Linked DNA regions of Homo sapiens. The protein of the gene in region 1 interacts with the protein of each later gene in a pairwise test. Each region holds a gene or a part of one and is shown in the gene's direction. Other genes may lie near its edges.

The links.
Region 2: the proteins of TMEM243 (region 1) and CPLX4 interact in binary tests that used the Homo sapiens proteins (3 or more experiments, as listed by UniProt).
Region 3: the proteins of TMEM243 (region 1) and CD33 interact in binary tests that used the Homo sapiens proteins (3 or more experiments, as listed by UniProt).
Region 4: the proteins of TMEM243 (region 1) and PLP1 interact in binary tests that used the Homo sapiens proteins (3 or more experiments, as listed by UniProt).

Annotation. Positions count from the first base shown.
Region 1 is NC_000007.14:87,209,729-87,216,758, reverse strand, and holds part of TMEM243 (transmembrane protein 243), read left to right. Parts: intron 1-7,030.
Region 2 is NC_000018.10:59,294,892-59,301,669, reverse strand, and holds the end of CPLX4 (complexin-4), read left to right. Parts: intron 1-4,744; coding exon 4,745-4,972; 3' UTR 4,973-6,268; downstream 6,269-6,778.
Region 3 is NC_000019.10:51,228,059-51,235,088, forward strand, and holds part of CD33 (myeloid cell surface antigen CD33 isoform 1 precursor), read left to right. Parts: intron 1-7,030. UniProt on the Homo sapiens protein: Sialic-acid-binding immunoglobulin-like lectin (Siglec) that plays a role in mediating cell-cell interactions and in maintaining immune cells in a resting state.
Region 4 is NC_000023.11:103,786,840-103,793,149, forward strand, and holds the end of PLP1 (myelin proteolipid protein), read left to right. Parts: intron 1-958; coding exon 959-1,127; intron 1,128-1,597; coding exon 1,598-1,671; intron 1,672-2,493; coding exon 2,494-2,559; intron 2,560-3,687; coding exon 3,688-3,759; 3' UTR 3,760-5,780; downstream 5,781-6,310.

The DNA of each region.
Region 1 (7,030 bases):
GTTTGCCCCAAGTCGTGAGGTGAGTGAGGGATAATGAAATCTATTATAGAACAATGACTATTAATATATAACTAAGTTGGCCTTGAGCAGCACCCTCTTGGGGAATCCCTGAAGGAACTTTTTTTGCCTTTATGGGTGCTGAGTGCACATAGTGATTTCAGTTACTGAAATTTGTTCAATCTTTAGCATGAAAATTGTTCATTCTAAGTTATTCCTATTTAGGAATAGCTTTACAGACATAGTCATGGAGAGAAAGGCAAAGTGAAACAGTTCTCTATTGTTCCATAAATATCTAAGGGATTTTTTTGTCTTTGAGGCAGTGTCTCACTTTGTAACTCATATCGGAGTGCAGTGGCCTGACCACGGTTCACTGCAGTCTCGACCTCCTGGGCTCAAGCAATTCCCCCACTTCAGCCTCCTGAGTAGCTGGGACTATAGGCGCCTTCTACCAAGCCTGGCTAACTTTTTTTTTTTTTTTTTTTTTTGAGACGGAGTCTCACTCTGTTGCCCAGGCTGGAGTGCAGTGGTGCAATCTCGGCTCACTGCAAGCTCCGCCTCCCAGGTTCATGCCATTCTCCTGCCTCAGCTTCCCAAGCAGCTGGGACTACAGGCACCCACCACCACACCTGGCTAATTTTTTTTTGTATTTTTAGTTGAGATGGGGGTTTCACCGTGTTAGCCAGGATGGTCTCGATCTCCTGACCTTGTGATCTGCCCGCCTCGGCCTCCCAAAGTGCTGGGATTACAGGCGTGAGCCACCACGCCTGGCCCTTTTTAATTTGTTGTAGAGATGGGGCTTCCTGTATTGCTCAGGCTGGTCTCAAACTAGTGGCCTCAAGCGATCCTCCCACCTCAGCCTCTCAAAGTTCTGAGATTATAAGCTTGAGCCATCGTGCCTGTCCTAGGGATTATTGACAAGACAAAAAACGAAAGGTGTTCATCTTTTGTAAGAAACATAGACCTCATTCCTTGATACCTATGGAATTTTCATGTTAGGTTGGCTATCTTATGAATCCTAGTTTGAATGCCCAGATGCTTTTTACATCTTTTTTGAACCATTCCCAAGTTTTGTGCTATAGTACTTCTCTTTCAGGTGAAAAATATGGCACAGATACCAAGATGATAAGAAATATCTGAAGTTTCCAAGCCTGTGTTATGGCTTAGCATTTTCTAAAAGAGTGCTGTCCAGTAGAAATATGATGTGAGCAGCCATATATGTAATTTACATTTCTTAGTAGCCATATGAAAAAGTATAAAGAAACAAGTGAAATATTAATAATTTTATTTAACCCCTTATTTCCAAAATATTAATACTATCATTTCAACATATAATCAATATTTAAAAAAAAATTTTAAACTAGGCATGGTGGCTCAGGCCTGTAATCCCAGCACTTTGGGAGGCTGAGGTGGGAGAATCACTTGAGCCCAGGATTTTGAAACCAGCCTGAGCAACAAAATGAGATCCTGTCACACACACACAAAAAATTAGCTGGGCATGGTGGCACCCACCTGTGGTCCCAGCTGCAGGCTCGCACCACTGAACTCCAGCCTGGGTGACAGAACAAGACTCTATCTCAAACAGAAAACAAACTGAGATACTTTTACAATTTTTTTGTATGAAGTCTTTGAAATCCAGTATGTATTTTACATTAACAGCCCATCTGAATTCACGCTAGCCATGTTTCAGATGCTCAGTTACCACGTATGGCTAGTACAGGCGATGTCCCAAATCCAAAATCCGAAATGCTCCAAAATCCAAAACTTCCTGAGCACTGACTTGATGCTACAAGTGGGAATTTCCACACAAAAGTACTTAACACAAACTTCATTTCATGCACAAAAATTTTAAAAATATAAAATTGTCTTCCAGGCTATGTGTGTAAGGTGTATATGAAACAAATTTTGTGCTTAGACTTGTGTCCCACCCCAAGATCTCACTATGTATATGTAAATATTCCAAAGCCCGAAAAAATATCTGAAATCAGAAACGCTTCTGGTCCCAAGCATTTTGGATAAGGGATACCCAACCATTTCAGACAGCTTAGTTTTAAAGCAGCTGAAATGTTATGGTGATTCCATAACCAAGTTTGTGAAACATTTTTCTTTGTTGTGGGACTTTGGAAGCTTTAATATGCCAATTTTCATTGTGACTATAGTTGGTGAGGGTGGATGAGTAGCACTTTATAAACTGTTTAGGTGGTGTGGCCTTTTTAGCCCTAGCACAACGCCTTACTCAATTCTTAACTCCAGCTCCCTAGAGCATTCACTAGATACGTTTCTGCAGAATATACTTTGGGAAACATGGTTCAATGAATCGCCTTCCTCTGCTTTTCCCTCCCATCCTGCCCCCTAGGGTAAACTAAAACCTGAAAATGTCCTCCCCTCTTCTGCCCACAACTACCTTTAAAAGTTTTCTTTAGTACAAGCTTTAGTACACAGTTTGGACAGTCTTTCCCACTGTCTTGTGTTAGAAGAGCACTAAATTATTCTCAGGGCTTGCGAGTCAGTCTTGATCTCAACTTATTAGCTGGCTGTGGTATCATCTGAAGTCAGTTTCAGTCCATCTAGACTGGTGAAACTAGGAGGAGAGGGAGAGAATGGTTTTCTCGAGAAAGCAAAGCAGCATCCCATAGCTAGGGCAAATGGGAAAAGAAGGAACACTCTCCACTTGGTGCCATGTAGTGCAAACGAGTTTCTAAATCAGCCCACTCTGTGGGTGGTCACTGATCACAAAATAAGTGACTCATCCTCTAAGAAGGGTGGTGACAGTTCTTGCTCCTTTATTCCTTCTTGGATGTGATATATAAAGTCAATGATTTGGGGAGAAGGTACATACACTGAATTCCTCAGTAGATACCATAGTGAGAGGGAGGCCCTCTGTGGAGGGGGCAAGTGTAGTGGGCTCTGAGGCTCAGATCTTTGGTTCCAAAGACAAAAGTATCTTCCTTTATCCCCATCCCCCCAATAAAAAAAAAAAGAAGAAAACAAAGACGGTGAAAAGCAAGGGCTTTTTATGATTAGTGTTAGTCAAGCAATTCAAACTTGGAGCATTTGGCCTCTGCAAATAATCATGTAAGATTAGAGTTGCTACTTCATGCCATTTTTGTTGTCGCTTATTTAAGAACAAGGATCAGTAGGGATGGTAATAAAATAATTTTTAAAAATGCAAAGAAGAGAAAAAGAATAAAGCTATGATTAAGATAGCTGGGTCTGTGCCAGCAGCCCCTTCCTCTGTCTTAGAGCTACCAATGCTATTCTCTGAGGAGTGCAGGCTTTAGTTTATTTCCTCTAGATAGAGCTTCTAGGTGATCAAGCACAGCTATTTCTCTCAAAGGAGGGTTAGTCACCCAAAGGTGAAACAGTTCTCTCCTCTCCTCTCATTCAGCCTGCCAAAACAACTTTGCCTTTTTTTGTGTGTGCTAGAAAAGTAATTAAGAAAAATAAATGCCATCACTTTTTCTTTAGTACTCTAAGTTTTCTCTCTTCCACCCCTAGATCAGTGGACTGTAATCTCTGGGTGTGGGGCCTAGGCACTGGTATTTCTGGAAGGTCCTCAGGGGATGCTGGTGCATAGGAAGGGTTGAGATGCACTGGCCTTACTCTTGCTGTGTGTAAGCCCAGTCCAGGCTAATACCTCTCCATGGACCCCTTCTTTTAGCTGCCTCTTTGCTCTTCATAAATGTCGTTCTCCTTTCTGCTGTGTCCTCTCTTCTCTAAATATCTGAATTCTGCTCAGTCTGATTCCCTACTTTAGAACCTTCCCTGTAATCCAGTCTCTTCTCACTTTCCTTCTGTGAGCCTGGCTGTCAAAGATGTGCCCTGGCACTTACTCCTTGTGCTGTGAGGGACTTGTGTAGGTCTTGCCTCCTAACTATAGAATAAGCTCTTCTTTAATGGTAGGTGCCAGTTTCCTCATTTTTGTAGCCTTTTTAGCCCTAGGGACAATGACTTACCAAGTTCTTGATTTCATGTATATTAAGTTTTAAGCAAAGTGAGAATTTAGCGTTATCAAAAAGTAACCTACATTCTTGGGACATTCTGAGCTCACAGTAGAAGGCAGGGACTGTTTAGAAACCTGGATATGCTAGATATCAAAACAGGAAATGGTGCTTCAAGCTCTCATGCAATTAAAATCATTTTTCTCTTTTTCTTTCTGCTAAGTTGTATGTAGCAGAGGCCAGTAGTAAATAAAATATTGTATTAAAAAAAACTTAAACTGAGGTCTGGTCTCTCAGAAGCTGATGGTCTACTGAGTTTTCTCTGGATGTGATTTTTGCTGGTCTTTGGTAATATCCTTTGCTTACTGAATTGAGTCACTTTTTTCTTATAGTTGGCTCATAGGCTATGTATGGGTATAGTGACCATATTTTCTGAGTTGCTGAAGGGACATATGGGTGGATAAACCTCAGTGTCCCTGTGAGAATGGTGGAATGCATTTGAAATTGGAGCTGCCATAGAAATTGGGGCCAGGGTGTGAAGCCAGCTCAGCTCTCTCAGCTCTGAGGAGCCTGATCTCTCATTGGTAAGATTCCCCCTTAGACATGGTATAAATAGTGCAAATACCATATTAGCTGCCATTTACTGACCCTCTACTGAATGTCAGATACTCTCTTGTAGGGGCTTTCTATGTATTCTCTTCTAATCCTTATTACGACTTCACATGGTAGACATTGTACAAATATGAAAACTAAGGCTTAAAAGTTGTAACTTTTAAAATACAGGTCCACATGTAGCAGTGGAGGTCATGTGTTTGGGAGAGAATCGAGTGTAAAAGTTGTAAAGGGTGGGTGTGCCCAAATTCTCATAAATGCTTTCTCTTGCACATCCCGTGCTCTCGGCACTGTTCAAAGTCTGGTGTTGCTTTGGGAAGTCTCAGAGCAGTAGTACCTATGGGTCATAATTCGCGGCGTCCTAGAGTTAGCCAGTGAGACAGAATGTCTCCTTGCTTTCCACCTGTGTGGCTGCTATACCTCCGGTTGTCTCTAGTGACAGTGCAAGGGGAAGCTCCTGTACAGTCAGAGCCATGCTGCTCTGAGGGACCCATATTAAATCCCTGGACACAGGGCCTGAGGTTTCTTTATTCAGCTGGGCTCAAAATAAACCTTCTCCCACATTTTGCATCCTCTCGTTATGCTTTTTCCTGGCCCCTTAGGCTTCTGACTGGGCCACTTACACAGCTTTCATGGTGAGAAGTTGTGATTTGGAAGAAGAGAAGCAAAGTCATTTCTGAGAATCAAACTTTTATTTATGGTATTGGGACCCTTAAGTTTGCTTGAGAAATGCAGAACTTTGGAGGCAAAATTGTAGGATGTGGCTCAAGGGTCTGAATCACTCAGTCCAGGTAAACAATGGTAGGAAGTAGCACCCTTTGGGCATTTAATACCTGCTCAATGTGTTGCCTTGCTCTTTCCCCATCCCAGGAGAAGACAATCACTGTCTTCAGTGGCCTGAGGAACTCGTGGGTAGGGAGGGTAAGGGATGAGTATAAAATGGGATTGAGCCTTTTATAAAAGGAAGAACAAAGTGCCTGGAGGTATTGTTCCTAGACCAAACTGAGGGTCAGGCTGCTATTTCTGGTGGCCCAATAATGAGATGCAGTTGAGGAGCTGAATGTTAATAGGTAAGACAATGGGGAAAATGTCCCCAGGGAATTTCAGAGAGCTTCACAGCAGCCCCCACACTACAGGCCCTGAGGCCTGTCAAGGAAAAATGGTTTTGTGGATCAGGTCCTGGACTCCAGTGCCCTGTGTCACAGCTGCTCCAGCTCCAGCTGTGGCTAAAAGGGGCCAAGATATAGCTTGAGCTGTTGCTTAAGAGGGTCCAAGCCCCAAACCTTGGTGGCTTCCACGTGCTGTTGGGTCTGTGGGTGCACAGAAGGCAAGAGTTTGGGAGCCTCCGCCTAGATTTCAGAGGATGTATGGAAATGCTTGGATGTCCAGAAGTCTGCTGCAAGGGGGAGCCGTTATGGATTGCATTGTATGCCTGGAAAAGCCACAGACACTCAGCGCCAGCCTGTGAAAGCAGCTGTGGGGGCTGTACCCTGCAGAACCACAGGGCCATGTGGAGTTGCTCAAGGCCTTAGGAGCCCACTCCTTGCATTAGTGTGGCCTAGATGTGAAACATAGAGCCAAAGGAGGTTATTTTGGAGCTTTAAGACTTAATGACTGCCCTGCTGGGTTTTAGACTTGCATGGGGCCTGTAGCCCCTTCATTTTGGCTGATTTCTCCCTTTTGGAATGGGTCTGTTTACCCAATGCCTGTAACCCCCATTGTATCTTGGAAGTAACTAACTTGTTTTTGATTTTACAGGCTCATAGGTGGAAGGGACTTGCCTTGTCTCAGATGAGACTTTGGACTTGGACTTTTGAGTTAATGCTGGAATGAGTTAAGACTTCGGGGGGACTGTTGGGAAGGCATGATTGGTTTTGAAATGTGAGAAGGACATGAGGTTTCGGAGGGCCCAGGGGCTGAATGACATGGTTTGGCTGTGTCCTTACCCAAATCTCATGTCAAATTGTAATCTCCACATGTTGAGGGGCAGGGAGGGACGTGATCAGGTCATGGGGGCAGTTTCTAATGGTTTAGCACCATCCCCCAGTGCTGTCTCATGAACGAGTTCTCATGACATCAGATGGTTTAAATGCATGTGGCAGTTCCCCGCTCCCACACGCTTCCCCGCTCCCGCCCTCCCCATCTGTCCCCCCTTCCCCTCCTCTGTCTCTCTGTCACCTCCTCCCCCTCCTCTCTCTCTGTCCCCCCTCCCTCTCCTCTGTCTCTCTCTCTGTCCCCCCTCCCCCTCCTCTGTCTCTCTGTCCCCCTCCTGTTTCTCTCTCACTGTCCTCTCTCTCTGTCTCTCACTCTCTCACTGTCTCTCACGCTCTCACTGTCTCTTGCTCTCTCTCTCTCTCGCTCTCACTGTCTCTCTCTCACTGTCTCTCGCTCTCTCACTGTCTCTCGCTCTGTCTCGCTCTCACTGTCTCGCTCTGTCTCGCTCTCACTGTCTCGCTCTGTGTCTCGCTCTCACTGTGTCT
Region 2 (6,778 bases), on another chromosome or scaffold:
TCTAGGGCTAGCTCAATTAGTTAGGATCCAGAGCTAATGAGGCTACAGGCCCACATTTGGTTCCAGAGGGCATCATTTTCTCCTCTAGCCACTCAACGGCCTTGTCTGGTTGTCCTACCTTTAGTCATAAGATGTCCATGGCACAGGCTGCAGCCCAGAGTAATTGGCTTCAAGACTAGAATCATCTCCAGAAGCAGCCATGCTCTGGTGGAGGGCCAGTAGCCTTGTACTTCTAGATCAATGGTGAGTGCAGGACTCTCTGACCACAGCCATCGAGTACACCCATTGCTGCCTTTGGACCTGGACATCTGAGGCCACTGCCCTGGGGCCCATGTTTTAGAGGGCTCTCTTGGTCTCTCTTCTAGCCACACTCTTTCACACGGGGTGAAGAGTCTGTGGGCCAAAGGGCCTAGCCCAGGCAGAGCCCACACCCCTCTTGTAGACTATGCTCAAGCTGCTTAGGACCCCAAACGCCCTGCCTAAGTGCATTCCAGAGCATTCTCAGGCCTCCGATGCAGATCTGTGCTCCTGAGAGTGGCCAGGCAGACTAGGCCTGAGGAGTGGGGTAGGGGCCATGCACCCAAGGTCCTAAGGCCCTTCCCAGTGAGGGCTGGCACCAGGAACTGGAAAAAAAAGAGGGCCAGGTTGTGAGCCAGGAACTTCTATCAGCACTTATGTTCTGCCACCCACAAAAGTCAGGGGCGGGCCTGACAAGAGGTAAGGGGAGCTAGGGCTGGCTAGGTAGCTTTCTCCTAGAATAGAGAGCCTAGTGCTAAAGAGGAAATGACTAAGCCTGGCTTGTTAGAAAAACCAAGCCTTTGGGTGAAGGTAGGAGTCATTGCTAGGTCAGAGGTAAGGTGCCAGGACATCACAGCCTCCTGACAGAGCTAACCCCATGTGCAAGACTGCCCACAGCAAATTCCCCTGCCCACCTCTGAAGGTTATTATTTTTATGAATAGCTACTACTGGGTGAGTGCTTAACAGATTCTAAATAATTCAGTTACCATCTAATTAACCTTCCACAGCTCTAAGGCAAATAATGCAATTCTCCATATACAGACAAGGAAATAAAGCTCAAAGAGGCCATCTATACGAAGTGCCCCAGGTCACCCATCCTATAAGTGGTAGAACTAATGTGCTCACTCAGGCAATTTAGGCTGCGATGCCCCAATGGAATTATAAAGATAAACCGATAGCTACGAAAACAGAGCTCTTTACAGCAAAGAGGACCTACAAATTTGAGTATTACTAAGGCTGTTATCCTCTCTGACAATAGGTTCATTGAATCATTCAGTAAACATTTATTTTAATTTTTAAAAATATTTATTTATTTGTTAAGACAGAGTCTCTCTCTTTTGCCCGGGCTGGAGTTCAGTGGCGTGATCTTGGCTTATGGCAACCTCTGCCTCCCAGGTTCAAGTGATTCTCCTGCCTCAGCCTCCCTAGTAGCTGGGATTACAGGTGTGTGCCACCACTCCCTGCTAATTTTTTGCATTTTTAGTAGAGACGGGGTTTCACCAAATTGGCCATGCTGGTCTTGAACCCCTGACCTCAGGTGATCCCCCCGCCTCAGCTTCCCAAAGAGCTGGGGTTACTGGCTTGAGCCACCATGCCCGGCTATTCAGTAAACATATAATTGTCTGTGTCTACATGCCAGAAACCTTGCTGGGTTATGAGACAGAAAGATGAGTAAGTTACAGCCCTTGTCTTCAAGAAATGTAGAGCAGGGGTTCTCAAACTTCAGCAAGCCCCAGAATCACCTGGAAGACTTGTTAAATCACAGATTGCGAGGCCCGAGCCCTGAGTTTCTGATTCAGTGGGTCTGAGTAGGGTCCCAGCACGTGCATCTCTAGCAAAGTCCCAAAAGATGTTGATGCTGTTGTCCTGGAGAACCCACTTTGAGAACTACTTTGAGAACCACTTTGATAAAAGTTAGGGCAATCAAGATCCTCTCCATAAGGCAACGTAGAATTGCACTGCTCTCCCTTCCCTGAGCAAGAAGCACAAGGATAAAACGAACCTCAGAGTCACCCTTGAAGGAGGAAACCATCCCAAAGCTTCTTCAAGCGCTGCAGAGCCATAGATGGTGGCCTCGCTGAAGTCTCCCTGTGAATGGGAGGCAGGCGAGCACCATCCCGTGAGCCCTCATGAGTGTGTTCGGTGTTTTATACTCCTGGCTGGCTGACACGCTTTCCTCTAGCCCCTCTAGCTGCCCATCCCTGCAAGCCCACAGCAGTTACCCTGTCCAGGTTCAAACCTGGTGACATGCTTGGGGATCTTACTACCAACCTGAGGGAAGGGGCCAGAATTCCCGGGAATGTCTTTTCAGATTACTTGCATTTGATTTCAGGATGCATAAGAGAGGGCAGATGTCCCACATTGGCATGAACTGAGAATGAGTCGTCCACCTTGTGCTTTTCCTCTCCTTCCTGCAAAAAGTCCCAGAAGACGATCAGCAAGGAAAGCAGCCGCTAGGGAAGGCAAATAAAAAATAAATAGAAATGCACAATTGGCTGGGAGCCCCTAAGGATTAACTAACTAATTAATCCCACAACAGTTTGACCAGGAACTAATTAATCCGTTAAGCACTTGGAGGGCCCAAGGCCCTGGCCAAGAGCAGGGAGAGGCTTCACTTATCTCCGGAGGCTGGCGCGGAGTGGGACTGTCCTCCAGGCTCTCCAAGGAGGGCCTGGGTGAAGACTGTCCTTCCCAAAATCAGTGGTTCCTGCTGCATCAGAAATCTGCTTCTCAAGCTATTTCTTGAGCCAGACTCCTGTGTCACTCTGCCCAGGGAACCGAATCAAAGAAGAGAGCCCTGAGGAAAGGCAGCTGGGCTTCAGCCCCTCCAAGGATGGGAGCCACAGAGTGTTAGAACTGGAAAAGACTTCAGCCATCTCGTCCTTCCAACCCACTTTCCAGATGAAGAATGAAGTTTCCAGGTTACCTGGTGTGCTGTTTGGACCTAGAGACAACTGATGTTTCTTTCTGATCATTCCTACATAGCACCCAGACAGGGAGAATTCAGATCTCTCTTTAGGTGCTGTCTTTAACTCCACCTCAGAAGTCACCAGGTGCAGAAATCTTTCTTAAAGCAATGTAGTCTGTTTGACTAAGATCGTCATTTTTTAATATGATTTTTCATGAGCTTTGGTAACAAATTTAAGGCTGGTCACAACATATTCAGGTGGCTCTAACATAGATCTTTCCTCTCATTAGCTTTTCTGACACTCTTTTTAATCTTCTGTTTCCCTGAAACCCAGGTCACCTCATGTTACAACCTGATCTCCAAAAAATCTGACAGCAGCCATCTGGGGATGTAAGCTACTGTTAACCTTTCCCAGAGAATATTTTTCTTTAGACTCCTCTCTCATTACAGAACAAGAGACTCTATAGCCTAAGTGGTAAAAGAATCTCAGCTGAGTATGGGGGTGCATACCTGTAGTCCCAGCTACTTGGAAGGCTGAGGTGGAAGGATTGCTTGAGCCCAGGAGGCCAAGGCTGCAATGAGCCCAGATTGCACCACTGCACTCCAGCCTCGGTGAAAGAGAGAGACCCTGTCTAAAAAAAAAAAAAAATAAAGGAATCTCAAAGACCAGGCAGCATGCATTAAGAAATTCTAGAACAGACACTCCTAAAATCACAAAATGAAATGTGCAAGGCGCTTGTGACAGCGTCAGCAACACCGAAGGCTAGACTGCCAGTATGCTGAGTGGCGGCCATGCCCTTGATGGTTCACTTAATACATGTGTACTGTGTGCTAGACTCCAGTCCAGGTGCTAACGGTGGAAAGTTGAATCTGACAAGAGCCCATGACGGGCTCCCTGTCTAGTGGAAGGGAGGAAAAGAGCCATGATTAAGAAAAAGTTGCCACTAAGGTGTGATGAGTGAATTAATGCATACTGTCTAGTTACTATAAACTGAGACCTCATCCTCTACAGTGGGGTCAACCAGGTGAGTGGGTCTTGGCATGGGGCTGATAGAATCTGCAAGACTTGCAAAGCTGCCCTTAGGCAGAGTTGGGGTGTGATGCCCCAGCTTTTGTGTGTATCAGCATCACAGAGAGAAAGACATTCTTAAAAATCCAGATGGGGTTGGGAGTGGTGGCTCACACCTGTAATTTCAGCACTTTGGGAGGCCGGGGTGGTTGGATCGCCTGAGGTCAGGAGTTCGAGACCAGCCTGGCCAACATGGTGAAACCCCGTCTCTACTAAAAATACAAAAAAATCAGCTGAGTGTGGTGGTGCACACCTGTAATCCCAGCTACTGAGATTTACTGAGGCAGGAGAATTGCTTGAACCAAGGAGGCAGAGGTTGCAGTGAGCTGAGATCGAGATACTGCACTTCAGCCTGGGCAACAGAGCAAGACTCCCTCTCAAAAAAAAAAAAAAAATTCCAGATGGCTGGGCTCCATCTCCAGAGTTCCTGATTCAGTGGGTCTGGGATGGGGCCCAAGAATTTGTAGTTCCAGCAGGCTCTAGATGATGCTAATGCTGCTTGTCCAGAGACCACACTTGGAGAACCACCATGCTGGAAGGTTCTGATCGACGCAAGGTGCCATGAAGAAAGGACCCCCCTACAGAAGCCCCCACAACTGCCATCAGGACCAGGCTCTGCTGCAAGGCCAAGAGTGCCACTCACTTCCTGTATTCTCTAAAGACCTTTTCCTGCTGCTTTTAAAATTTATTTAGTTAGTGAGTTAGTAGTTTAGAGTTATTTATCTATCTCTATTTATTTTTCACATAGAGTGAAATGGATGAGAATCAAATCCAGATGGCTGGAGATGATGTGGATTTACCTGAAGATCTCCGGAAAATGGTAGATGAAGATCAAGAAGAGGAAGAAGATAAAGATTCTATTCTTGGGCAGATACAGAATCTCCAGAACATGGACTTGGATACCATAAAAGAAAAAGCCCAGGCCACCTTCACTGAAATCAAGCAGACAGCGGAGCAGAAGTGTTCCGTGATGTGAGGGGTGGGAGGGGTGGAGGGAGGGAACCAGCCATCCTTGGAAAAGACCACTCTCTTGTGGGACGTTTCAAGCAGTACATGTTTTAATGTAGTGAACACAGTTAGGAAAACCACGATGATCCATTGACAGACAATAATTTGGTTGTTCTAAATATTCCTGGCAGAGCATTTAGCTAACACCTTGCAGCGGGAACCTTACTTTCCTTTTAGTTATAAATGAGATAAACTGGAAAATTTCAGTTGTAAATGATGATGCAGAACACATATCTGCTTAAAGACCTTGAGATGAGCCAGGAAGAAACAAAAGCAAGGGGCATTTCCTCTCCAACTTTCTTCCTTGGAGGCCAAGTTCTCACCCTGTCCAACTATTCGCAGGACACCAGGTCCCTTCAGAGAGAAATGTGGAGAGTCAAGGTGTCTACTGGGAGCCGGGTTTCCCACAGGGAGCTGAGTCTACAGACTCCAGGGCAATCAAAGGTCACCACCCCCACCCCTCACCTCTAGGATCCTTGAATTTGTCAATGATACTCATCAAGTATGCTTGGATCCTTTGGTCCTTGGATGCTTCTCAGCCAAGTGGCGGTAGCACAGATGTGGTGAACAATGACGAATTGAGGCAGGGAATAGACCTCACTAGCCCTTTGCAATGGAGATCATCGTTCTAGTGGCCATGTGAAGAATGGAACCAAGGGAGGCACAATTAGAGGCAGAGGGAAACCAGGCAGACGGCTGCTCTTTTTGAGTTGAGCTTAACTCTCCTTGTCTGAACTTGGTGATAGCAATGGGAACAAAGTGGGTAGACTAACAGAGAGCATTAAGAAGTTAAATCAATCTCTCTCTGTCTCCTCCCAACCTCTCTCTCTCTTTCATCCCCTTCTCTCCCTATCTCTCTTTTTTTTTTCTTCTCCTGTCCCTTCCCATCCCACCCCTTTAGACTACCTTCCAGTAAATCACACTGTCATTTGGTGCCACAAGCTTTCAGGGTAGACACTGATTTTTCCCCCCTAATATCTGCTCTCTTTCAAAAGGAATAATTCAAAAGACTTAGGACAATTACCACTGAAACACTTCGAGCTATTTAGCTAAAGCCCACCAAACCAAAACAAAATACTGATTTTTTTTTTTTTTTTTGGTGACTCTGTTCATACAGTGAATAAAGATCTATCAAAGGAAAAGGAAACTGAGACCGAAAACTTAGGGTCTAAGTTGTTCTAAACCCAGGGTTCTCAAATGTGTTGTACAAAAAGTTTCATGTAATAAAATTAAGCAAATAAAACAAATGAATAGAGGTCCAAAACCTATGGTCCTTGGCAAAGTTTAATCTGTCTTGGAAATTCCTGGGAGAACATTGGTGCAATGATTGAGGCTGATTAGCCTTCTAGTCCACAAACCCAGATGCCATGGGCACATTTTAAAACTGTGCTTGTCTTTTATCAGAAATGGCATGTGAGTTGTGATTTGTTTTATAGCAGAAACTTTAAAAAACTCACTTTTTTAAAAACTACAATATAATAGATAACATTTATTTTCAGTTTAATGCCTGACTCTGCCCTGTAGTTGGTGAGGTGGGTAGTATGGATGGGTGAGAGGTGCTGTATGTGGCCTGATATCTGTACACTTTGTATGACATAAAATACTACAGCTGCCAAATTGTTCCACACTCTAGCCTCAGGATGACAAAGAAGATGTGCTTTCTTGTAAAAGATGCAGCCAGTTCTGCTAAGGAAATCACTAAATTGGCACTTCCTCTTGACTGCCAACATTACTCCAATGCAATTTGGTCGTTGTCTCAATGAAGCTGCACAGC
Region 3 (7,030 bases), on another chromosome or scaffold:
TGTATTATTGGTGTATGTATCTGCTTTTATGCCAATATCATGCTGTTTTGGTTACTACAGCTTTGTAGTTTTGAAATCTTTAAATTTTTGAAATTTTGAAATTTTCTAGTTTTGAAATTTTGAAATCTTGTAGTGTGATACCTCCAGCTTTGTTCTTTTTTGCTTGGGATTGCTTTGACCATTCAGGCTATTTTTAGTTCCATATGAATTTTAAGATTGTTTCCTCTAATTCTGTGAAGAATTACATTGATATTTTGATAGAGCCAGGTTTGAATCTGTAGATTTCTTTGGGTAGTATAATCATTTTAGCAATATTAATTCATCTGATGAGTAAGGAATGTCTTTCCATTTGTTTGTATCCTCTTCAGTTTATTTCCTCAGTGTTTTGTAGTTTTTCTTATTAAGGCTTGTCACCTCCTTGGTTAAATTTATTCCTAGGTATACTTCATTCTCTTATAGCTATTGTAAATGTGATTGCCTTCCTGATTTATTTTCAGCTAATTCATTGTGTGTAGAAATGCTACTGATTTTTGTATATTGATTTTGCATCCTGCAAATTTACTAAATTCATTTATCAGTTCTGAGAGTTTTATTGTTAGAGTCTTTAGGTTTTTGTTTTGTTTTGTTTTGTTTTGTTTTGTTTTTGAGATGGAATTTCACCATGTTGGCCAAGCTGGTCTTGATCTCCTGGCCTCAAGCAATCTGCCCACTTTGGCCTCCTAAAGTGCTGGAATTACAGGCATGAGCCACCACGCCTGGCCAAGTCTTTAGGTTTTTGTATGTTATTTGCAGAGACAATTTGACTTCCGCCTTTCCAGTTTGGATGGTTTTTATTTCTTTCTCTTGCCTAATTGCTCTGGCTAGGACTTTCAGTACTATGTAAAATAAGAGTCATAACAGTGGACATCCAGTTCCTAGAGGAAAAGATTTCAGCTTTTCTCCATTCAGTATGATGTTAGCCATGGGTTTGTCATATATGGCCTTTTTTGTGTTGAGGTACTTTCCTTCTATACCTAATTTATTGAGAGTTTCTATCATGAAACAATATTGAATTTTAACACATGCTTTTTATTCTGCAACTATTTAGGTGATCATACGGTTTATGTCCTTCATTCTGTTGACATATGTATAACATTTATTGATTTGCATATGTTGAATCATTCTTGCCTTTCTGGGATTAATCCCACTTTATCATGGTATGTTATCTTTTTGATGTATTGTTGGATTTGATTTGCTACTATTTTGTTGAATATTTTTGCATCTATGTTCATCAGGGATATTGGCCTCTAGTTTTCTTTTTTTATTGTCTCCTTTCTGATTTTGGTGTCATGGTTATGCTGGCCTTGTAGAATGAGTTAGGAAGAGTTGCCTCCACTTCAATTTTTTGGAATAGTTTGAGAAGAGTTGGCATAATTTTTTTTTCTTTAAAGGTTCAGTAAAGTTCAGCACTGAAGCCATCCAGCCCTGGAATTTTCTTTGTTGGGGGGCCTTTTATTATTCATTCAATCTCATTACTTGTTGTTTGTCTGCTGAAGTTTTCTATACCTTCTTGATTCAATCTCGGTAGATTATATGTGTCCAGGAACTTATCCATTTCTTCTAGACTTTCAAATTTGTTGGCATATTGTTCATAGTAGTGTCTAAGATCCTGTGTATTTCTGTGGTAACCATTGTGACATCTTCTTTTTTATTTATGATTTTATTAATTTTTATGTCTTCTGTCTCTTTCTTAGTTTAGCTAATGATTGTCAATTTTATTTATTTTTCCAAAAAGCGAACTTGTTCATTGATTTTTTTTTAATTTCATTTATTTCTGCTCTGATCTTTATGATTTCTTTCATTGTGCTGATTTTGGATTTGGTTTGTTCTTGCTTTCTAGTTTCTTGAAATGCACAGTTAAATGGTTTACTTGAAATTTGTCTAATTGTTTGATGTAGGCATTTATTTCTCTCAAGTTGTCTCTTAAAACTGTTTTTGCTGTGTCCCATAGGTTTTGGTATATTTTATTTCTATTTTTATTTATTTTGAGAAATTTTTAAATATCATTCTTAATTTCTTCCTTCACTATTGGTCATTTAGAATCATTTTGTTTCATTTCTGTGTATTTGTATAGTTTGCATGTTTCCCTTGGTATTGATTTTTAGTTTTATTCAATTGTAGTCAAATAAGATACTTGATACATTTTGGTTTTTAAAAATTTTTGGCACTTGTTTTGTGTTCTAACATATGGTCGATCCTTGGGAATGTTGCACATGCTGATGAAACCATGTGTATTCTGCAGCTGTCGGTTGAAATGTTCTGTAAATATCTTAGGTTCATTTGGTATATGGTGCAGTTTAAATCCAACGTTTATTTGTTAATCTTGTCTAGATGATTTGTTCAATGCTGAGAGTGGGGCGTTGAAGTCCTCAACTATTATTGTATTGGAGTCTATCTCTCCCTTTATATCTAATAATATTTGCTTTACATATCTGGGTGCTCTGGTGTTGTGTGCATATGTATTTACAGTTGTTATATTATAGTGCTGAACTGACCCCTTTATAATAATATAATGTCCTTCTTTGTCTCTTTACAGCTTTTGACTTGTAGTCCGTTTTGTCTGAGATAAGTATAGCTATTCCTGCTTCCTTTCATTTCCACTTGGGTAGAATATCTTTTTCCATCTCTTCCTTTTCAGTCTATGTGTGTCTTCTAGGTGAGATAAGTTTCTTGTAAGCAGTATATAGCTGTGTTGGTAGAAGGGCTGAGGCAGGGCTTGCTTGTCTGACATAATGTAAAAGAGTCTTGGAACATGTCCTGGGTCCAGGGTCTCAAACCCCTCGTGGCCTATGGAACACCAAGCTCTGTGCCTAAGGGTGGAAGGCTGCCCTGCCACACTGCAATCTAAGCCCAGGGCATAAAACCCCTCGTGGCTTGGAAAGAATCCAGGGCTCTGGGCATAAAACCCCTCATAGCCTCTGGAATGTGTCCAGACTTGCTGGCCCCTTGCTCCTTGCTCTCCCAGGATCATAAATTGATTGTATCTTGAGTGAAAAGAACTTGTTCTCCATTATTTCAAGTAGCAGAGCATATGCTAAACCGTCACAGCTATGCTTGATGCACCGCTACCTTTCTACCCCAAAGTCCTCACGTTCTCACTTGTCTATCCCCACTTCTGCACGTCCTCACCACCTGCTTCTTTGTTTGATTACCAATAAATAGTGTGGGCTCCCAGAGCTCGGGGCCTTCACAGCCTCCATACTAGCGTCGGCCCCCTGGACTCACTTTATGTACTATTAACTTGTCTTGTCTCATTCCTTTGACTCCGCTGGACTTCGTGGCCCCCACGGCCTAGTGTTGGATCTGATCACCCCAACAAGCTGAGTCTAGATTTTCTTTTCATTCATTCAGGCAGTCCATATATTTTAAATGGGACAATTTAATCCATTTACATACACATTATTATTAATAGGTTATTTTCATTTCATTGATTGTTTTCTGATTGTTTTATATATTCCTGGTTCCTTACTTCCCCTCTTATTGTTTCTTTTTGTGGTTGGCTGATGTTTTTTTTTTTTTTGTAGTGATAAGATTTGATTCCTTTCTCTTTCTTCTTTGTGTATGGGCTGTCAGTGAGTTTTAAGTTCACGTGTTTTTGCCTTTTCACTTCCAGATGTAAGACTCCCTTGAGCATTTCTTTTCTTTTTCTTCTCTTATTTATTTTTATTATTTTTTTTTTGAGAAAGTGTCTCACTCTGTCGCCCAGGCAGGAGTGCAGTGGCATGATCACGGCTCACTATAGTCTCGACCTCCTGGGCTTAAGCAATCTTCCTGCCTTAACCTCCCAAGTAGCTGGGACTACAGGCATGTGCCACCACGCCCAGCTAATTTTTGTGTTTCTTGTAGAGGTAGGGTGTTGCCATTTGCCTAAGCTGGTCTCAAATTAAAGAGCTCAAGTGGTCCACCTGCCTGCCTTCACCTCCCAATGTGCTGGGATTATAGGCATGAGCCACACTGTGCCTGGCCCCTTGAGCATTTCTTGTAAGGCCAGTCTAAGAGTGATTAGAATTCCCTTAGTTTTTGCTTATCTATGAAATATTTTATTTCTCCTTCTTTTCTGAAAGATAGCTTTTCTGGGTATAGTATTTTTGACTGTTAAGTTTTTTATCTTTCAGTACTTTGAGTATGTCATCCCATTCTATCCTGGCCTATATAATGTTACTGCTGAGAAACTCACTGTTAGTCTAATAAGGATAATCCTATATGTGACTAGATACTTTTACCTTGCTGTTTTTACAATTCTTTACTTGACTTTTGACAATTTGGCATAATGAGCTTTGGAGAGGACTTGCTTGGGTTGAATATTTTGAGAGTACTTTGAGCTTCCTGGACCTGGATGTCCTTCTAGTTCCCAAGGCTTGGGAAGTTTTCACCTATTACTGGATTAAATATGTTTTCTACACCTTTTCCATTCTCTTCTCCTCCTGGAAATACCATAATGTGAATATTTGCTTGATTGTGTCCCATGAGTCCTGTAGGTTTCCTTCGTTCTATTTTATTCTCTTATTTTTACCTGCCTGTGTTATTTCAGAAGATCTGTCTTCAAGTTCAGAAATTATTTTTTCTTCTTGACCTAGCCTGTTGTTGAAGCTCTCGATTGCGGTTTTTTATTTCATTTATTGAGTTCTCAGCTGTAGGAGTTCTGCTTTGTTCTTTTATATAATATCTATCTCTCTGTTAAATTTCTCTTTCAAGTCATGAATTAAAACAATGGGACACAGGTGCCCAACTACTTGGCTGACCTGGGGGCATATCTGCTGGAGGTGCCAACATGGCTGTTTTGCAGGGCTGAGATGAAGCTGAATGACTCTTGGCTGGCCTAGGTGTGTTTTTGCCAGGAGTAGCACTCAGAGCTTTATCTAGGGTTTGGGATGTGAGTGTAAGACTGCTCAGCTGGCCTAGGGGGTGTACCAGCCAGTGGTAGCCCATGGGGCTGTTTCTCAGGCCTGGAATGCAAGCACATTCTGCCTGGGGTCATGTCTAAAAGGGTTGGCTCACAAGGCTGTTTCTCAGGCCCTAATTGTGGGAGAGTGGCCTTTGGGCAGGCCAGAGTCATGTCCACAGAAGGCGTCTGGGCACCGTAAGGCTGTTTCTCAGAGCCTGTGTGTGAGCACATAACCACTACCCCAGCCTGGGGATGTATCAACTCTTTGTTGGCTCAGAGGTCTCTCCCATTCAGGTGAGCATGCACAGTAGTTTGGCCAACTCAATTGTGTGTTCGCCCTGAGTGGGACTATAAGACCTTTCCTCCAGCTGGAAGTACGGGCAGCAGGGGTTGGTTTCTCTGCTGTTCAGGGCCAGAGTCCCAGCCAATCCTGGGCCCAGGCTCCATGCAGCTCTAATTGTGGTATTCAGCCACTACTGCAGGTTTAGTGGAATGAAGATGCACAATGATAAAGAGGTGCATGCCACTGGCCCCCAGAGGAGGGTGCACTCCAGAGATGGCTGTGGTCTCAAGATGGTTCTGTGTTGTAGCAGCTTGCCCGCAGGGGCTGGTTAGGGAGTTGGGAGTGCACACCAAATGCTCCATGCAGCTGTGTGAATTCCTGGCAGCTCTTCCAACTGTGCTCAGAGCTTGTGAGGACTGTAAGATTAACCTGTAGTAAGGAATGTAGGTATCTGCAGTGGCACTGGAGGTTGGTTGGATTCCTCTGCTTATCATTTCCCTACAAGGGGAAATCCTTCCTGTCTCTGGGACAAACCAATCTGGGCTGGGGAGATGGAGCTGCAAAGCCCGGGTGCCTCCATGCTGCCCTCCTGGGTTTCCAATTACCACAGGTAACTCTCCACTCCCTTGCTGCACTACACTACTCTCCCTTCGACACTCCACTCAAATCTTTGCTGTGGTTTATTCATTGCCTTGGTCCTTTCTTGTCTGGTGACACGGGGGAGGATGAGCTCCAGGCACCTCCGGTGAGCCATTTTGCTCCAATGGGGGCATTTTTTTTTAATAGGTTTTATTTTTCAGAGTAGTTTTTGTTTCACAGCAAAATTGAGTGGAATCTTCTAGTCGCTGATCATCTTGGGAGCATTTATAAATGAACCTTATTTTTCATGAAGAAATTGAGCAGAAGATACTAAGACTTCCCGTATGCCCTCTACCCTTACACATAGTTTCCCCGGCCATCAGCATCCCCCATCAGAGTGGTACATTTGTTACAGTCAATAAAACTACATTGACATATCATTGTCACCTGAAGCCCATAGTTTACATTAAAGTTCACTCTTGGTGTTGTACATTTTACAGGCTTTTTAAAAATGTATAATGACATGAATCCACCATGAGAGTATCATATAGAATAGTCACACTTCCCTAAAAATCTCTTTAGGGCATTTTTTTCTACTGTCCATACCTCAACCCTTAGCCCTGGCCTCTGTCCAAAGACCAGTGCTCTCTCCACTGCCCTATTCCAATTAATAATGGCATCTGGCACCTCAGTGGACAGTGAGCCCAGTGAGAGCAGGAACAGTTCCCTCAGTAGTGGTTATCAAACTGTTAACAATGATGCTCAGAGACACGCCCCTGACTCTGAGTGTTGGGACCTAGAAGGCACAGCCAGGCAGGTCCAGGAGAACTGTCTGGGTCTAAGAAGGTCTGAGAACCACCTCCCTGCCCCACCCTGCTTCCAGGCCCTTTTTAAGGCCAAAAGGACCACCTTTGACCCTAAGTGATGGGGCCAGTGGGAAGAAAGAAGAGACAAGGCCTATCAGCATTCCAGTGCTTTCTCTCTCTCTCATCCAAGAGGCTCAGAGCTTCACAGTCCTTCAGGGGCTATGTCTGAGGTTCATTTCAGAAAGACCCAGGGTGGAGAGGAACCTGAGTCCTAGGAGAGATGATGTTTTGTGCACCAGAGAGAGAGGGTGGGACAAGAGGTGTCAGGTGCACTGTGTACTTCATCTCATGGTCGTGGTCAATATTGATGTCTATGATGGGTGGGAAGATCTAGGAGCTAAACCCCATTTTGGAGGTGAAGTCACCCCTCTCTACATG
Region 4 (6,310 bases), on another chromosome or scaffold:
GTGAGGAAGCGATGGCTGCAGCCGAACGAGAAGGTCAGGAAGAACGTGGTGCCCAGCTGGCTTAGCCTCACCTTTCAAAGGTTCCCTAAGCAAATTTCTTCTCAAAACAGAAAGCATGAGTTTTGTGGGATGCTTTGTACAATCAGACCATTTCTAAGCCATCTGTTGGTATCCCTTTGTTCCCTTCCTAGTAGGTACCACAAGAGTGGATCTAACTGGACAAGAGTCTAAAATGCTGCTCATGTGATTGAGACTTGGGCACCTGATCTGAGAGGGAGGATGGATAATAAAAATTAAATAATTAACTCCAAGGTGAAATTTACAATGTTCTGGGATCCTGCACAGTTCGAGGTCCCAGAGGGAATTGGAGTAGATCTGCATGTTGAATGTTTTATTGCCTGAGGGTTATCCATGCTTTGAGTGAGGTGCACATTTGTTTTCAGTCTCTGGAGTTAAAGATCCTTTGGCGGCTGAACATGTGTGGGTTCCAGCAATGTCTTTTTGTGGCCAGCAGTTAGCTTAGAAAGGTTTTGTATCTGAAATTTTAATCTCCTATTGGCTTTGTTCAATGGCTAGGGAACAAAAATGTTCCTATGGCAAGGAACATGTTCTAAGCTCAGCCTAAGGCACAAAATGGCACGACTTTCTTTCAAGATCTGTTTTGATTTCTTTACACCTTATCTGCCCAAAAACATCCTCTGAAGCCTCTCTAACCCAGGGATCCTCCTCACTCTTCCCCTACCCATTCCCCCCACCCTCCGTTATACTGGGGCCAGTTATCTAGTAGATACTGCCAATTACCCTTGGCAGAGGTGCCCTGCTCACTAATTTCATTTGAAGGAGAGCCCTGGAACCTGGTTTTAATGTCTGGCACACGCCACTCCAGGATCTCCCAGTTTGTGTTTCTACATCTGCAGGCTGATGCTGATTTCTAACCACCCCATGTCAATCATTTTAGTTTGTGGGCATCACCTATGCCCTGACCGTTGTGTGGCTCCTGGTGTTTGCCTGCTCTGCTGTGCCTGTGTACATTTACTTCAACACCTGGACCACCTGCCAGTCTATTGCCTTCCCCAGCAAGACCTCTGCCAGTATAGGCAGTCTCTGTGCTGATGCCAGAATGTATGGTGAGTTAGGGTACGGGTGCTTTGGCTCTCCTACCCACTATGGAAGCACTATATATTTGGTTATTTTCTTAGTGTAAGGAGGGTGGTGATTATGAGAAAAATATAAGATGATGAATGATTGGGTCTTAGTTTATTAATCCTTCCCTACTGAAACCAGAGAGGTTTCTTCCCCGGGAAGGGAACTTGGAAGTGGTGGGAGTTTTCTTGGCCATTCACATTGGCCTACTCTAGTTGACTGCTGTTCACAACCCCAAAGCAGCACATTTCAATAACAAACACAAGGTTTCACCACTGTTCAATACCACCTTCTCTTTTTTGTAAACCTGTAGAAAAGAGGATCCTGATTGTTGGTAGAATCCAACTTTACAGCCAGGATAATTAGAGATGGAAGAAGGGCTCTGGGGGAAAGTCTCCATGTGGCCCCGTAACTCCATAAAGCTTACCCTGCTTGCTTTTTGTGTCTTACTTAGGTGTTCTCCCATGGAATGCTTTCCCTGGCAAGGTTTGTGGCTCCAACCTTCTGTCCATCTGCAAAACAGCTGAGGTGAGTGGGTTATTTGGGTTATTTTACAAGGGAGTAGCTAATACCATACAAATTACACCCATGGCCTTCAATTTTAAGGACTGAAAGTTTCCCTTTGCTGGATTTTGAATTAGCCGATTGCCTTCTACAACATGTTGGCTAAGTGTGCCTGAGCCAATGAGCATAGAAGGTAAAACACCTGTTTTCTCTAGAGTTGCATAGAAAGACTTCCTTTCCAACCCTTCCCCTCTTAAAAGAGAAGTTTGTAGCTTTAGGTAAAGATAGAGCCTAATGGCAAAATCCCCCACATGAAAATTTTCATTCCTTTAGTTAAAAACCATATCAAGAAAATGGGCTGTGCACAGAGGCATTCATAGGTTTTATGAAAACATTTTCAATTTGGAACTTCTTTATCTCAAATGAGAGGTAAAATAAGTACATTTGAAAGGGAAAGCACTGTATTGAGAACAGATATTATATACAAATGAGGCAGGGGAATAAAAGTAAATCCGGGGGAGACAGGCAGTAAATTATTTCTTTGACAGCAAAATGTTGACTTTAAATTTTGGGCCCCTGGGCACAACTGTAGGGAACCAGTTAATTATTTTGGAGTACTGTACTATTTCATGACTATTCTGTGATCTGGGTGTTAATGGGCCAGGTGCTATGGTGTACACTGAAGACTGGGAGGCCCACATTTAGGGAAGTGAAAACTTAGTTAGAGATGTGGAATTAGCACACAAGAAAGATATCAACACATTCAGAAAGCTGTATTCATGATTTACAGTGGAGCATATTACTGCTGTTGCAAGAAACAGTTCTTCCTCTTTCATTTTCCTGCAGTTCCAAATGACCTTCCACCTGTTTATTGCTGCATTTGTGGGGGCTGCAGCTACACTGGTTTCCCTGGTGAGTTGACTTTGAATGATCTTGGCAAGTAAATAGGCCTGAGATAGTGTGGGTACAGCTATTCTGAAAGGCAAGAAGGTAGACTGCTTCCATCCTTGAAATGCTGGAGGGAAGCTTCTGGGAAGATAGCAAAGGGTGGAGGCTCCGTACTTCTACTTGCATTGGCAAGGCAGAAAGACATCACAAATTAGATGGGAACAAGAAAAGTGGTATGAGGAAAGAGGTAAGAGATTCATAGACACGAATGATAATATTTAGTATTTATAGAACATGTAATGTTGCCAAGTACTTTGCAGTCATAAATTACGGTTAATTCTCAATACATTTTGATCAGATCAGTGACAAAACACTGAAACATCACGAAACATGACTTGCTATAGCCTGGAATTCTATATACTATCAATATGAATCCACTTTGGATACTCTCCAGTGGATTTAGTTACTCATATGGAAATACTGGGAGGACCTCCTAACATTATTAGAATTGTTATGATTATAATACAATGCTATGTCCCAGGTCTTGCTGATAGTGCTACAGTGCCCTGTGAATGTAGTGTGCTCATTGTGCAGATTAAAAACCTAAGGCACTGAAGGGTGAAGTGATTTATCTGAAGTTATTTTATAAGCAGTGATCAGACAAGATGAGCTCACAGAACTCCTGGCCCCTACTGCTGAGGTTTCCATACAGAGTCAAGTAATTTCTCACCTTGTAAAACGAATTGATTCATTAACCAGGGGAGAGCTCTACTGCATGATGTGGCTGTGTGTCTACAGCAAGCACCCTATGACTCTAAGTCACTCGGACATATTGATGTGGCAAAGCCCAAATATTGTTCACTTCCCTGAGGAAAACTCAGTGCTAGATCAAACAGAGGTGTGGAATAAATCTTTATGATTTGATTCTCTGGGCCTGGGCCATGAGACCCATGATGCCTCAGAGACATCGGACTTCCAGTCAAGTGTATATGGAGAAAGCCAAGCCTGGGATGTACTGCTTTTTGCAGAGCATGGGTTTTTCCCTTATTTAGTTATGATTTTATTTCTACCCTTCCTCATTCCCAAAGGGATTTGAGGAGGGAGTGCTTTCTTTTCTACTCTCATTCACATTCTCTCTTCTGTTCCCTACAGCTCACCTTCATGATTGCTGCCACTTACAACTTTGCCGTCCTTAAACTCATGGGCCGAGGCACCAAGTTCTGATCCCCCGTAGAAATCCCCCTTTCTCTAATAGCGAGGCTCTAACCACACAGCCTACAATGCTGCGTCTCCCATCTTAACTCTTTGCCTTTGCCACCAACTGGCCCTCTTCTTACTTGATGAGTGTAACAAGAAAGGAGAGTCTTGCAGTGATTAAGGTCTCTCTTTGGACTCTCCCCTCTTATGTACCTCTTTTAGTCATTTTGCTTCATAGCTGGTTCCTGCTAGAAATGGGAAATGCCTAAGAAGATGACTTCCCAACTGCAAGTCACAAAGGAATGGAGGCTCTAATTGAATTTTCAAGCATCTCCTGAGGATCAGAAAGTAATTTCTTCTCAAAGGGTACTTCCACTGATGGAAACAAAGTGGAAGGAAAGATGCTCAGGTACAGAGAAGGAATGTCTTTGGTCCTCTTGCCATCTATAGGGGCCAAATATATTCTCTTTGGTGTACAAAATGGAATTCATTCTGGTCTCTCTATTACCACTGAAGATAGAAGAAAAAAGAATGTCAGAAAAACAATAAGAGCGTTTGCCCAAATCTGCCTATTGCAGCTGGGAGAAGGGGGTCAAAGCAAGGATCTTTCACCCACAGAAAGAGAGCACTGACCCCGATGGCGATGGACTACTGAAGCCCTAACTCAGCCAACCTTACTTACAGCATAAGGGAGCGTAGAATCTGTGTAGACGAAGGGGGCATCTGGCCTTACACCTCGTTAGGGAAGAGAAACAGGGTGTTGTCAGCATCTTCTCACTCCCTTCTCCTTGATAACAGCTACCATGACAACCCTGTGGTTTCCAAGGAGCTGAGAATAGAAGGAAACTAGCTTACATGAGAACAGACTGGCCTGAGGAGCAGCAGTTGCTGGTGGCTAATGGTGTAACCTGAGATGGCCCTCTGGTAGACACAGGATAGATAACTCTTTGGATAGCATGTCTTTTTTTCTGTTAATTAGTTGTGTACTCTGGCCTCTGTCATATCTTCACAATGGTGCTCATTTCATGGGGTATTATCCATTCAGTCATCGTAGGTGATTTGAAGGTCTTGATTTGTTTTAGAATGATGCACATTTCATGTATTCCAGTTTGTTTATTACTTATTTGGGGTTGCATCAGAAATGTCTGGAGAATAATTCTTTGATTATGACTGTTTTTTAAACTAGGAAAATTGGACATTAAGCATCACAAATGATATTAAAAATTGGCTAGTTGAATCTATTGGGATTTTCTACAAGTATTCTGCCTTTGCAGAAACAGATTTGGTGAATTTGAATCTCAATTTGAGTAATCTGATCGTTCTTTCTAGCTAATGGAAAATGATTTTACTTAGCAATGTTATCTTGGTGTGTTAAGAGTTAGGTTTAACATAAAGGTTATTTTCTCCTGATATAGATCACATAACAGAATGCACCAGTCATCAGCTATTCAGTTGGTAAGCTTCCAGGAAAAAGGACAGGCAGAAAGAGTTTGAGACCTGAATAGCTCCCAGATTTCAGTCTTTTCCTGTTTTTGTTAACTTTGGGTTAAAAAAAAAAAAAGTCTGATTGGTTTTAATTGAAGGAAAGATTTGTACTACAGTTCTTTTGTTGTAAAGAGTTGTGTTGTTCTTTTCCCCCAAAGTGGTTTCAGCAATATTTAAGGAGATGTAAGAGCTTTACAAAAAGACACTTGATACTTGTTTTCAAACCAGTATACAAGATAAGCTTCCAGGCTGCATAGAAGGAGGAGAGGGAAAATGTTTTGTAAGAAACCAATCAAGATAAAGGACAGTGAAGTAATCCGTACCTTGTGTTTTGTTTTGATTTAATAACATAACAAATAACCAACCCTTCCCTGAAAACCTCACATGCATACATACACATATATACACACACAAAGAGAGTTAATCAACTGAAAGTGTTTCCTTCATTTCTGATATAGAATTGCAATTTTAACACACATAAAGGATAAACTTTTAGAAACTTATCTTACAAAGTGTATTTTATAAAATTAAAGAAAATAAAATTAAGAATGTTCTCAATCAAACATCGTGTCCTTTGAGTGAATTGTTCTATTTGACTTCACAATAGAAACTTAATAATCGTACCTTGTTCAAGGAGATCATTCATTTTTCAGCTCATCCAAGTCATTCTCATAACATTTCTCTGAAATAAATAGTATATGAATAGATTACTTCTACTTTTATAGTTGAAGACACTAAGAAATAGAAGCAAAGTAATTTGCCCAAAGAAATCCAGTAAGTACATGTCTGAGCTTGTGTTAAAACGCAGATATTGAAACCAATTTATTGCCTACTTAAAGGTTTCTTTTCTCTTCGAAGTTGGGTTTCAGAATGTTCAGAGTCAACTATGGTTACTTTTTCAATACCTTAGTGGTGCCCCAGTCCCCGGTGCATTTAGATTTAAGTTATTGTTACCTTCTCTTTAAATTGTTTGGATATTCCAGTAATGATCCCTTAGTAATTCATACGTGACTAATATTTAGTTTTATTTGGATAGTACTGGATGGAAGGTTTAGTACTTAAAGGACAGAGCAGGTATGGAAAGGGCAACGTA